2 linked regions of the Homo sapiens genome follow. The protein of the gene in region 1 interacts with the protein of each later gene in a pairwise test. Each region holds a gene or a part of one and is shown on either strand. Other genes may lie near its edges. The genes, in order: CSTPP1 and FH.

Region 1 (7,248 bases):
TCATCCTTATGGCAGCTGGTATAGGCCAGGGAGAGTACAGAAATAATATCTTTTTTCTTTTTTTTTTTTTTTTTTGAGACTGAGTCTCACTCTGTTGATCAGGCTGGAGTGCAGTGGCATGATCTCGGCTCACTGCAACCTCCACCTCCCAGGTTCAAGTGATTCTCCTGCCTCAGCCTCCCGAGTAGCTGGAATGACTGGTGCACGCCACCATGCCCAGCTAATTTTTGTATTTTTAGTAGAGACAGGGTTTCACCATGTTGGCCAGGCTGGTCTCCAACTCCTGACCTCAAGTGATCCACCCGCCTTGGCCTCCCAAAGTGCTGGGATTACAGGCGTGACCCACTGCGCCCAGCCCAGAAATAATATCTTTAAGGAAACCTAATTCCAAATGCAGTAGAGGGAAAAGTATTCTCCAAAAAGAAAGATATGAGTGCCAGTGTCATCCAGTTAGAGGCTAAAAGGCTTTCCTCCATATGCGTTGCTCGAATGACTGATTCAGATGTCCTCTGTGTGTACCTGTGGAAGGTGGGAAGCACTCAGAGGAACTGGCCTCCAAGAGTTTTCGGAAAGGTATGGTTATATGAAGAGACTTCCCCATAGAAGGACTAGGTCTAATCTAGAGTTCAGAGTTTTGTTGGGGAGAAAAATTCCCCGTTTTTGGCAGTGGTTCTCTCTGGTCTCAATTTTTCATTCTGATTCCAGCCTTCTGGATTCCATCTAACAATGACTTCTTGACTTTTCTCTTTGCAGTTTTAACAGTGTATGCCAGGGAACACACATTCTCTTTCGAGAATTCAGCTTCGTCCAAGCCACCCCCCACAATAGGGTATCATTTTTACGGGCCTTCTGGAGATGCTTCCGAACTGTGGGCAAAAATGGCGGTAAGTCTTCCCAAATTCTTTTTCCTTCCTTCCTTCCTTCCTTCCTTTCTTCCTTCCTTCCTTCCTCTCTCTCTCTTTCTTTCTCTCTCTCTTTTCCTCTCTTTCTCTTTCAAACTTTTTCTTTTGTTCCTATAAATATTGTTTGAATGCATGCTATTCAAGGCATTTAGAATACCTCACTTTTGAGGAGTTGTCTGGTTTATGTCAAAGATATTACTATTACCACTACCATCACTAATGGTACCTATTAAGAGCCAAGTGTAGCTCTTTACATGTAGTAACTCATTTATCTTTACAAGGGCTCTCTGTGGTAGATACCATAATCCCCATTTTGTAACTAATGAAACTGAGGATCAGAGAGGTTAAGTAACTTGGCAAGGTTACATAGTAAATTCTGGGCCCAGATTTATACCCAGGCAGTCTGACTTCACAGCCCTTGCTCTTGGCAGATATTAAAATGCCATGCAGTAAATACAAGGAATAATGTGAATATGAAGAAAGAAACTCCTGAATGGGGGTGGGATGGGGATACTGTTGTTAGAGAAGGGAGAGAAAAGTGGAGTAGAGAAGGTTCTCCTTAGAACTGACTGTTTGATCTAAGCTGGGAAGGAAGAGTAGGAATCATTCACATGGATAAAGGAGAGAAGGGCATCCTAGGTAGAACATATGCTGAAGCACAAAAGAACCTAGAATACTTACATAACAGATCAGGATGTCTAGAGTTTGTGTGGAGTTTATGAAGGAGGTTAGGGGAGATGAGACTGTAAAGGAATAATGGAGCTGCTGAAAGATCATTTTTTAGCCATAAAAAAGAAATTGGGCCAGGCACAGTGGCTCAGCCTGTAATCCCAGCACTTTGGGATGCCAAGGCAGGTGGATCACTTGAGGTCAGGGGTTTGAAACCAGCCTGTCCAACATGGTGAAACCCCGTCTCTACTAAAAATACAAAAATTAGCCAGGTGTGGTGGCGCACTCCTATAATCCCAGCTATTCAGGAGGCTGAGGAACGAAAATCGTTTGAACCCTGGGGGACAGAGGTTGCCGTGAGCCGAGATCGTGCCACTGCTCTCCAGCCTGGACGACAGAGCAAGACTCTGCCTCAAAAAAAAAAAAAAAGAAAAAAGAAAAGAAAAGAAATTGGGGCTGGATGTGGTGGCTCACACCTGTAATCCCAGCATTTTGGGAGCCCAAGGTGGGAGGATCACTTGAGCCCAGGAGTTTGAGACCAACCTGGACAACATACTGAGACTTCGTCTCTACAAAAAAATAAACAAAATTAGCCAGGTGTGGTGGCACATACCTGTACTCACAGCTACTTGGGAGGCTGAGGTGGGAGGATCACTTGAGCTGAGGGAGGTTGAGGCTACAGTGAGTCATGATTATGCCACTGACTCTAGCCTAGGTGACAGCGAGATCCTGCTTCAAAAAAACAAACAAACAAACAAAAAAGTTAAATTTTATTCTCTGGGTATTATTTGAAGGCTTTTTTTTTTTTAAAGACCCTGTTGCAGCCGGGCACGGTGACTCATGCCTGTAATCTCAGCACTTTGGGAGGCCGAGGCGGGCAGATCACAAGGTCAGGAGATCGAGACCATCCTGGCTAACATGGTGAAACCCCATCTCTACTAAAAAATACAAAAAAATTAGCCGGGTGTGGTGGCGGGTGCCTGTAGTCCCAGCTACCCGGGAGGCTGAGGCAGGAGAATGGTGTGAACCCAGGAGGTGGAGCTTGCAGTGATCCAAGATCGCGCTACTGCACTCCAGCCTGGGTGACAGAGCAATACTCCGTCTCAAAAAAAAAAAAAAAAAAAAAAAGACCCTGTTGCCCAGGCTGGAGTGCAGTGGCATGATCATATGATCATAGTTCACTATAACCTTGAGCTTCCAGGCTCAAGTGATCTTCCTAACTCAGCCTCCCAACTAGCTAGGACTACAGGTACATGCCTACCATACCTAGCTAATTTTAAATTTTTTTGTAGAGACGGGGTTTTGCTGTGTGGCCCAGGCTGGTCTCAAACTCCTGGGCTCAAGGCCTCAGCCTCCCAAAGCACTGGGATTACAGATGTGAGCCACCATGCCCCATCTTATTTGAAGGCTTTTAGATAGGAGAGTGGTGTGGTGATATCTGAGCTCTAGAAAGATCATTCAAAAGGCAGTGTAGAAGATGGCCTAGACTAGAGACAAGGAACATAGAAGTCTGGTAGTAGTTGAGTGAGAGATTAGACCCAACACTAAGGCAGTATGGAGACAGAAGGGGCACTTTCAGAGATAGAATCCATAGGATTTGGTGATTGGATTTGGCATTAAGATGAGAGAGAAGACCGTGGTAATTTCCAAGTTTTTGGCTTGGGCCACTGGGTAAGAATATTTTTTAAAAGCCTTCAAGTAATAGCCACAGAATAAATTTCAATTTTTTTTTTTTTTTTTTTTTTTTTTTTTGGAGACAGGGTTTTACTCTGTCACCCAGGCAGGAATACAATGACACAATCTCAGCTCACTGCAGCCTCGACCTTCCAAGCTCAGGTGATCCTCCCACCTCAAGTAGCTGGGAATATATTTGTGCACTACCATGTGTGGCTAATTTTTCTATTTTTTATAGAGTTGGGGTTTCGCTATGTTATCCAGGCTGGTCTCAAACTCCTGGGCTCAAGCCACTCGTCCACCTCAGCCTCCCAAAGTGCTGGGGTTATAGGCGTGGGCTACCATGCCTGGTCTCCTACTTTCATATTATGTGTTTTCATAAATACCTTTAAGACAATTTCTTGCTTGCTTGCTTTTCTTTTTCTTTCTTCTTTCTTGCCTTCCTTCCTTCGTTCCTTCCTTCCTTCCCCTCCCTCCCTCCCCTCCCTTCCTTCCTTCCCCTCCCCTCCCCACTGAGGTTATAGTCAGTGAATAGGTAGTCTCCCTGCTTTTGAATTTATGAGATTCCCCACCATGCTCTAATCAATGCTACTGCTACGAAACTGTAACTTTTCTAAATAGCTACTAAATATATAGCTATTAAACTTTTATATGTAGTTACTAAATCTTTTCTAAAACTTTTCCACCCAATATCTTATTAGTTCCACTGCCCTAAGAAATAGGTAAAGTGGGTATTATTGTGCCCATTTTGTAAATAATGAAATTGTGTAACTTGCAGAAAGATTTCATGGTGAATTAGTAGCAAAGCTAGAAATTGAACCCAGATTTACTAATATGCTGATGTGCTATTTCTACTATTTTTACTTCAATCATTGCCTCTTTGACATATAACTCTGGAGATCATGCATCTCCATTACAGTATTATGAAAGAAGTACTTAGTGTACTGAGGATCGTATCATTTCCCTTACAGAATAAATGCACTAATAGGCAAAAACCAATGTGGACTCAATTTTAAGTTAAGTAATTCAGAAAAACTATTCCATTGGTCTCTATGTAAACAAAACTGGGAACTGTGAGTATATAGGTAAAGCTCGTGCTATGTTATCAGAGGTTATCTTTCCCAGTCCCTCACTCAGTCAGCAAATATTTGTTTTAGACCACCTAGTACAGTCGTCTCTCAGTCTATGCAGGGATTGGTTCCAGGACCCCTGTTTATACCAAAATCCACGCATAATCAAGGCCTACATTAGTCCTGTGGAACTCTCATATGTGAAAAGTCAATCTTCCGTATACAGGGCTTCATATCCCTAGAATAGTGTATTTTCGATCCATATTTGGTTGAAAAAAATCCACCTAAAAGTGTGGACCTGCACAGCTGAAACCTGTGTTGTTCAAGGGTCAGCTGCATGTTGAAGAATATGGCTAGAGCTAGTTTCTGTGATAGAACATATGGAGATAACTATGGAAAACAGTCTTCAGATAGCCTTAACTTTTTTCCTGATATAGAAGTGGGGCCTCTTCAAGAATGTATTTACTATCACGAGGGATTCATATAGCATTTGGACTCTTAGCAGATGTGGGTTTCTTTATCTTTCTAATAGCAGCTGCCAGTGACTCATCCAGCTGCTAAGAATAAGCAGCTCCAAATTCCCCCAGTTTCTCCTTGTGCCATAAACAAGACCTAGATTTTATGCTGGCTGTTTATTGTTATCCTTCTTAATCAGACAGCCTCAGATTTCTTAGACTAAATGCAACATCTGTGTCTAGGTGTTCCTAAAATAATTGGTTAAGTAGCTTTAATGTATTCTCAGCTTTTTCTAGGAAACTCCAGAACATCTTTCTAAACCAGAATGTGTCAATCTCCAATTTTAATCCGGAATTAGTGAAAACTCTTGGCGGCAAGGTTCTAAAGGAAAGGATTTATTAAGCCCCATTTTATCAATTATAATGCCAGGTACCTACCTACTCAGTGGAACTCCTACTGCATTATTCTTCTGCAGATAACTTCCTTAGAATGTCATGTGCATACTTTAGCATTATCAAGTGGAAAGTAACTCTTCTGGGAGGTAGCAAAACAAGAGCATAACATATCTAAAAATGAAGCCACCTGTAGAACTCTAAGGACCTGGTCCCTTTTGACAAAAAATATTTTATTCCAGTTTTTAGCAAGTACAGGATATGATATCTTTTCTGCATGACTGAGTACTGATGCTAATTATCTTGTCCAAATTTTAGATAATCTCATGAAGACTGTAACAAACCTCTTGGTATCTAAGCAACTTTAGACTCTTGGAAGCAAAAGTTATATTAGAATTTTAAAAGCCTTTAAAATTACACTTCTCACTTTGCTAATTTTTTCTGTATAGGAATATTAATCTGAATTTTCTAAGTCTGGCAAAGATTGATATTCTCTTAATGTAAATCTTTACTTCTGTTTAGGGATATCGGCTCAAAAGTGCCTTCTCCAAGTTTATTTTCAATTAGAATTTAATTTTCAATATATACATATATACACATACATACATATATATATTTCATTTGATAAAATAATGATAGGTACTTCCTCTTCTATCTGTGAAGAAGTATCTACTAAGGGAATTGCCCTCTTGCCACTAACAATGAGAAAATCAGCATATCTGAAACAACAGTTTTCAGACATTGGGCAATAGGCAGTGGGGGCTGTGGATTCTGAGAGCCAGTTTCCAAGCAACAGTATAGGGAGAGAGATTGTCAAAGAGCTTAGCAGTGTTATTGAGTTGAGGAGGCAGAGACTGGGGTTTAGGGAGGCTGGAGCAGCCAGTATTTACAGGTCAGAATCCAAGAGAGGAAGAAGTTGTTCAGTGAGCTCCAGAATCTTTGGCTACAAATTCTGCATATGTGTGGGCTGGAAAAAGAACCACCAGAAAACAGTGGGCCAAACAATTTCTGGAGTATACAAGGGGCTAAGGATAATTCAAACTTCTACCAGCCATAGGGAAGAGACCTCAAAACACACCGGGCACTGGGTAGAGTTCTCAACAGTTTAAAAGCAAAAAGGATTAAATCGATCCGCAAGTAATTTAATGCTATATAAGAACAAAATTCAATAATCTTTAAAGGAATTTAACAAAATCCAGCATTCAGCAATGCAAAATTCACAAAGTCTGACATCCAATTCAAAATTACCAGACAGGCCAGGCATGGTGGCTCATGCCTACAATCCCAGGACTTTGGGAGGCCAAGGCAAGTGGATCACTTGAGCCCAGGAGTTCATGACCAGCTTGGGCAACAGAGCAAAACCCTGTCTCTACAAAAAATTTAAAAAATTAGCCAGGTGTGACACCTGTGGTCCCAGCTACTCTAATGGCTGAGGCGGGAGGATTGCTTGAGCCTGGAAAGTTGAGGCTGCAGTGAGCTGTGATCGCACCACTGCACTCAAGCCTGGGCAATAGAGTAAGACCCTGTCTCAAAAACAAAACAAAACAAAATAAAATTACCAGACATTAAAAGAAGCAGGAAAATACAGCCCATAACCAGGAGAAAAATTAATCAATAGAAACACAGATCCAGAAATGACAGAGATGATGGAATTAACTAACAAGGACCTTAAAATAGTTATTTTAAATCATATAAATATGCTTAAGTATGTAAAGAAAACATGAATATGATTAGGAGATTAGTGGAAGATATTAAAAAGATCCAAATGGAATTTCTAGACATGAAAAATACAATATAGTGAAAATGATAATAATAGCAATTAACATTTATTAAGTGCTTCTATGTAGATTATCTCATTTTTCTTCACAACAACCCTATGTGTTAGGTAGATGCTATTATTTCCTTTGCATAGAAAATGAAACAGATTTAGAATGTTAAATAACTTGCTGTAGGTCACACACCCAGTCAATGAAAAAGCCAATGCCAGGAGAAGCCATGAAGTCTGACTCCAGGCTGTATTATTGCTTCAGCGTGTTATGCATCAACACTGCATGACAGGCTGGAAATACAAATGAGTAAGTGACA
Region 2 (5,901 bases), on another chromosome or scaffold:
CAACTTCCTGGGCTCAAGGAATCCTACCACCTTAGCTTCCTGAGTAGCTGGGATTACAGGCACACACTACCAAGCCTGCCTAATTTTTGTTTTATTTTTTGTAGAGATAGGGATCTCATTATGCTGCCCAGGCTGGTCTCAAACTCCTAGGCTCAAATGATCTTTCTGCCTCAGTTTCCCAAAGCGCAGTCTCCTAAAGTCGGTGTCCCTGACCCACCATGCCTGGCCTTGATCTGGTCCCTCTGTGGTAACAGAAACAAGGTTGGAGGGATAGGTGTGTGTTTAACACACAGGATATGTATGTCCCAATTTTCTTAACCTATTCTATCACACACACACACGTGCGTGCACACACACACACACATATACACATCCCCACTCAAAAGGGCTTGGTCACTGTGTCTCCAAATCAAAGGAAAATAAAAGATGGCTAAGGACATAGTTTGGGAATGAGATAATAAGATATAATCGGGCAATTTTTTAAACCACCAATAACCTCCAAAATTAAAACCCTTTAGAAATTGGTAACTTATGAAGTCACAAAGACAACATGCACAAATATCATAGATTCAACTATAATACAAGTCAATTAACATAGGAGAAAATTTAAGTCTGTTTTCCTTTTTATTTTATAAATGTATTTTATTTTATACTTGTTTAATCCATCTTAGACCTAGCACATCCTAGGGTTTTATATACTGATCAAATTGCTCTGCTAGAGATGCTTAAGTTCAATAGCAGTTTCCTTTCAAACTTATCCGTTTTTAAGAAATGGGAGTCTGTTTTTTTAAATTTTATACATGTTTATTTTCATTATAAATTTATGTAAATCACTTTGGACCCAGCATGTCCTTAGGTTTTACCCATTCGTCAAACTGCTCTGCTGTGAGATAGCCAAGTTCGATAGCAGTTTCCTTTAAGGTTGATCCATTTTTGTGTGCTGTCTTAGCAATCTTTGCTGCCTTGTCATACCCTGAAGAAAAAATAAAAAGACGACATATGGGTTAGCAGTGATATTTGGTTTCCTAAAGCAAAAGGTGACATAATTGTTTACTTGATATTGATGCTATATGGGCCTCTTAAATGACATTTTTTGTTTTTAAATTAGTTAACAGTGATTATCTCAATAATCATTTTTTATGTAGAACATTTACTTTCCTTAAGAAATAAACACTTAAACATACCTCACTTTCTCCAACAGATTTGTTCCTAAGTTGAAATTTTCCAGTAACTTAGATATTTTGAAGGGGAAAAAAGTAGAAATTATAGCACCACGACATAAAAATATACATCTGGGTATATTTTTCAAACAACATGTTTAACTAGAAACAATTATCTTTCTAAAGAAACATTAACAAGCTAAATGCTCCAGTCCAGCAGAAAATAAAGCACTGCACGTCTGGCAACTGTGGTGAGTGGCTCTGAGAGGGGAGAAGTCCTCGCAGTGAGGCAGGCGCAGGCAGGGCCTGGGGAGGGGTGCCTCCAGAGCTGCTTCCAATGGCTCTTCTCTATGTGGCTCTCCACTGCAATGGCTTCTATACCCTGGCCTCCTCCCAGACATTACAGGGACACAAATAGGGAGTCTGGGCAGAAATACAGACTGCACAAAAGATCACAGGCATACTGTTTACTTCAGAGTTATTTGCTTTTCAAATTAATAAAAGTGGGGGCAGGGCAGTTCTGCAAGCTGTCTTAACATATATATATATATATATATATATATATATATATATATATATATATATGTCAAGAAGAAAAAGCAGGAATGAAAATGAAACCAATGCGGGAGAAAAAAAACAAGATCAGAGAAATATGACCAAAAGGAAGAAGCTTGCTGAGGCAGTATACATCATCAATAAGATGGCATGTGTCAATATGCAATTATTAATCAGCTATAAAAGAAAGCATGGGCATAGTTACTTTTATTACTTAACTGAATTTGTGAATGCTAAATATGTTGAAAAGGGCATTTATTGATCTGAAAGGGCATTTATTGATGCCATTTACTGAAAAGGGCATCTTTCTTAAAGCAGAAATGCTTTGAGAAAGAATTTGCATGTTAAACTCTTGAGATCAATATATATCCAGTACTTTTATTTTAATAATGGCTTTAAAGTCTAAGCATTTCAGCTGTCAAGTCCAACAAGACACTATTGGCAACCAGCCTGGTACATAATGAGAATATAGGGAACCCATGATTCAGAGGGTTGTAAGGCTCACACCAAGTCAACTAGTGAGGTGGTGTTGACCCATCTCATTCTCATATGGCCTCTAACAATTCTTTTTATGTCACAATAAGTTGATTCCAATAAAGATTTGCCAATCATTCAACTTTAGGAGACACCTCTAATTTAAAGTTTTGGTAACACATTCTGAAGTAAAGATCTGATGAAAACTGCTCACACGAGCCTCTGGGTTCCCCTTTGTGTTTTTCCAGATGTAGTTGATGTACCATAATTTTAAATGGATCAAACATTATTACCAATCTCAATGCCACACCAAAAAACTGATATCATACTGGGCTCAGAGCTACCTAAAAGAGTCAAATGAGCTCTAATTTTAAAAAACTGTAATTATAGCTTGATGTGAAACCAGGAATATAAAATTTGCCTTGAAAGTTCAAGATTATAGAAGAAGCAGTAGCCATATTATGCCAAATAAGTGAATCATAACTTGTTCTATAACAGAAAGGCAGAAAATATATTAACCTCTGCTTAGCAGAAAGGAAGAATGGGTAAAAGGCTTTTAACACATCATAATATAATGCAACATAATGCCTCAAAATCTACAAAAGTGTAAACAGTTTATTTAATGGAGATCTCTATGGTCAGTCTACTACCCAAATCTGTATGTTTGATTCTACATAATGAAATATTTACAGTTCCAAAAAAGACTTATAATACAATAGCATGGTTTTAGACAAAATATTTGCATTTTCCTTCCTCCCTTTCACTATAAGCAATGAATACATAAACTTTTTCTTTTAATTGTAACTTTCCATTTCTGAATTGAATAAAACAACAAAATTAAAGCATTGTAGAGATCTAGGGAAGGTAGAAAAATGAGTTCATTCAATGTTGCTAATCAGCAGTGCCACCTAGTGACATTACCCACTGAAGGTCTTACAAATAACCTTCCCCAATGGTCTGCATAGAATATTTGGCGTCTGAATTCCATTAAAATCAAAATAAGTTTGAACTACTACTTCTCGATACATTTCAAATAAAATGAGGCATAATAGATCTAGTTTTGAAAGAACTATGACACCATACAAGTTATATAGTACCTTTCCACACAATTTCAAATATTTTGAGATTTTACTAAAACCATATTCAAAAGAAATTTGCTGTTCTCAAACACTGATCCACTTGTCTCTTAAAAATGGTTTAGCTTTTTAATTTTGCATTCAAAATGATATTATTATTCCTTAAACACTTACCTATATGAGGATTGAGAGCTGTCACCAACATTAGAGACTCATTCATCAGCTTGTTGATCCTTTCTGTATTGGCCTGGATTCCCACCACGCAGTTTTCTGTAAAGGAAACTGAAGCATCCCCCAGCAGCCTGGCTGAGTGTAACACATTTTTAATCTTTGAGTGAGTGAGAGAGAGAGAGAGAGAGAGAGAGAGAGAGAGAGAGACATTACTAAGGCAACATGTTTTTTGTCCAATAACATATTATTTTCTGGTTGACAGTAAATATACAATTCAATAAACATATAGATCTTCTACAAATTTTAAGGCACTATAACCAAGGAAACAAATGTGAAAGAAAGCATGAACATTTGAAGGCACAGAAATCTAAAAAAGGTGAAAAAGACATAAATACAAATGACTAAAACACAAAATAGCCCATAGCAAGTATTTAAAACAGAGGTCTGAAGTGTTAGAGACCATAGAGAAAGAGAAATTAACTCCAGTTGTCGGAACTGGTGAAATCCTATTTTATGGAGAGGACTTGGCCAGAGAAGGAAAAAGAATCTTCCACGCAGAAGGAAGAGGAGCAAAGATGCAGAGGTTCGAAAGTTCAGTATGAGTGTGAGGCAATTAGTAAAGTCAGGGCAAAATCTAATGATCACCAAATTTCTAGGTTTTCTATGCTTTAACGAATACTCCAGTCACTGTAAAATAACTTTTCATATAATATTAAAAAACAGTATAAAATCAATTAGTTTGTTTTGGCTTTGTTGGCAACATTTCCAATATTTATTAAGATATATCCAAATCCTAATATCCTCTGGTCTAAAACTCCGGTCTGAAAACTAGACTTCCAACAATGGACTCTAAGACATATAATCTAAGTTTTAATTTGCTACTAATGACCTTGTAATAAGGCAAATATTGATTATCTTTATTTTACATTAAAAATAAAATTTTAAAAAGATTAACAAGGCATTTATTGTTATGCACCTATAAATGCTGGGTATCTCGTGTTAACTGTTTGGAATCTGACCTGAGAGCAAAATTTTAACAGTCTGAGTTCTGCTCTGGCCTGTGTTTTTATTTACCACTAGGATATACATTCCATGAGAGCAAGAAATCTGTCTTTTCATTGCTCTATCTCTATTATGCATCCAGTACAGTGCCTGATAGAAAATGGTACTCAATAAATATTTAGTGAATATATTAAATATACTCCATATTTGTCATTTGCATATTCTTATAAAATTAAAATTAGAATTTAGAAGAGATTCCAAGAGAAAGTAAGCCCCTACTCTACTTTAGCTATAACACTTTGTCCAAATGAAGGACTCTAAATTATGGCAACAGCTCCACTATCTGCAGCTGAGGAAACTGATGAGAAATGGCGCGATGCATCTATCGATCTTCGTAAAGACGAAAGAAAAAGAACGGTTTGGGTGGACACAATGTTTTCAAGTATGTGGAAAGGTAAAGCCAGACAATGAAACGAAGTCTGACAGGGGGCAGAAGAAGAACTGGTGAAAAAATGTTCAAGAAAGCAGGGATGAAGAATGTTTCAAGGAGGGACAGTCAACATCAACTATTAGTAAGGGAAGAACTAACTGCGCAATGCCAGCTGGACTGAGGTAGTCACCAATGAATGGGAGAATAATTCAAGCGTGGAGGGGGCCATGCTGGGCTGTGGTGACTACAGCATAAATGAAAGTGAGTATGTGCTATCCTTCCAAGAAGACTGAATTTGAAGAAGAAAGCAGCAGCATGAGAAGGAGACAGGCTTGTAGGGAGGCATTTTATTTTTCTTAAACGGGCTATTAAAAAAAACATCAAATTGCTTAGGTTAAAAGTCAACTAATTTCTATTATCTAGGATTATTCTGGTAACTTAATAAATGCTTGACTTCCAACTGCTACTTATGTCACCCAACTACCCAATGTGGAATCACTAGAAGTCTTTATGAAATACAAAACCAAGATAATAAGCCTTTGGTCAAAAAACATTAAAAATCAGATTTAAAGCTTACCATCATTGGCTTGAAAACATTCAACTCAAAATGTCCATTGCTGCCTCCGACAGTGACAGCAACATGGTTCCCCATGACTTGGGCTGCAACCATGGTCATTGCTTCACACTGAGTAGGGTTCACCTTGCCTTCAAGAAAACCACCAATGACAGAGTAAAGACTAAATTTATGCAAATAATCAGGAGAATAAAGAAATCTAATTTCACTAAATAGAGTAAGATATACAATAAAGCAAGGCCCAACCATCAGTGTAATTTAATGAAACAAACCAACCAAGGAAGGTGGGATGGGTAGCCACAAAATGAATCATTCAAAGGCTAACGAGTAGCCACAACTACACATTAAATATAGTTCTCCACCTTCATGATTTTCATTCATTCTATACATATTTATGGAGCCAGGCACTCAATATACAACACTGAATAAGAAAGATGCAGGCCCTGCCCTCGCAGAACT

Evidence for each region.
Region 2: the proteins of CSTPP1 (region 1) and FH interact in binary tests that used the Homo sapiens proteins (3 or more experiments, as listed by UniProt).

Annotation. Positions count from the first base shown.
Region 1 is NC_000011.10:47,051,635-47,058,882, forward strand, and holds part of CSTPP1 (centriolar satellite-associated tubulin polyglutamylase complex regulator 1), read left to right. Parts: intron 1-753; coding exon 754-884; intron 885-7,248. UniProt on the Homo sapiens protein: Regulator of the tubulin polyglutamylase complex (TPGC) that controls cytoskeletal organization, nuclear shape, and cilium disassembly by balancing microtubule and actin assembly.
Region 2 is NC_000001.11:241,496,998-241,502,898, forward strand, and holds the end of FH (fumarate hydratase, mitochondrial), read right to left. Parts: intron 5,574-5,901; coding exon 5,446-5,573; intron 3,594-5,445; coding exon 3,440-3,593; intron 974-3,439; coding exon 831-973; 3' UTR 606-830; downstream 1-605. UniProt on the Homo sapiens protein: Catalyzes the reversible stereospecific interconversion of fumarate to L-malate. Experiments in other species have demonstrated that specific isoforms of this protein act in defined pathways and favor one direction over the other.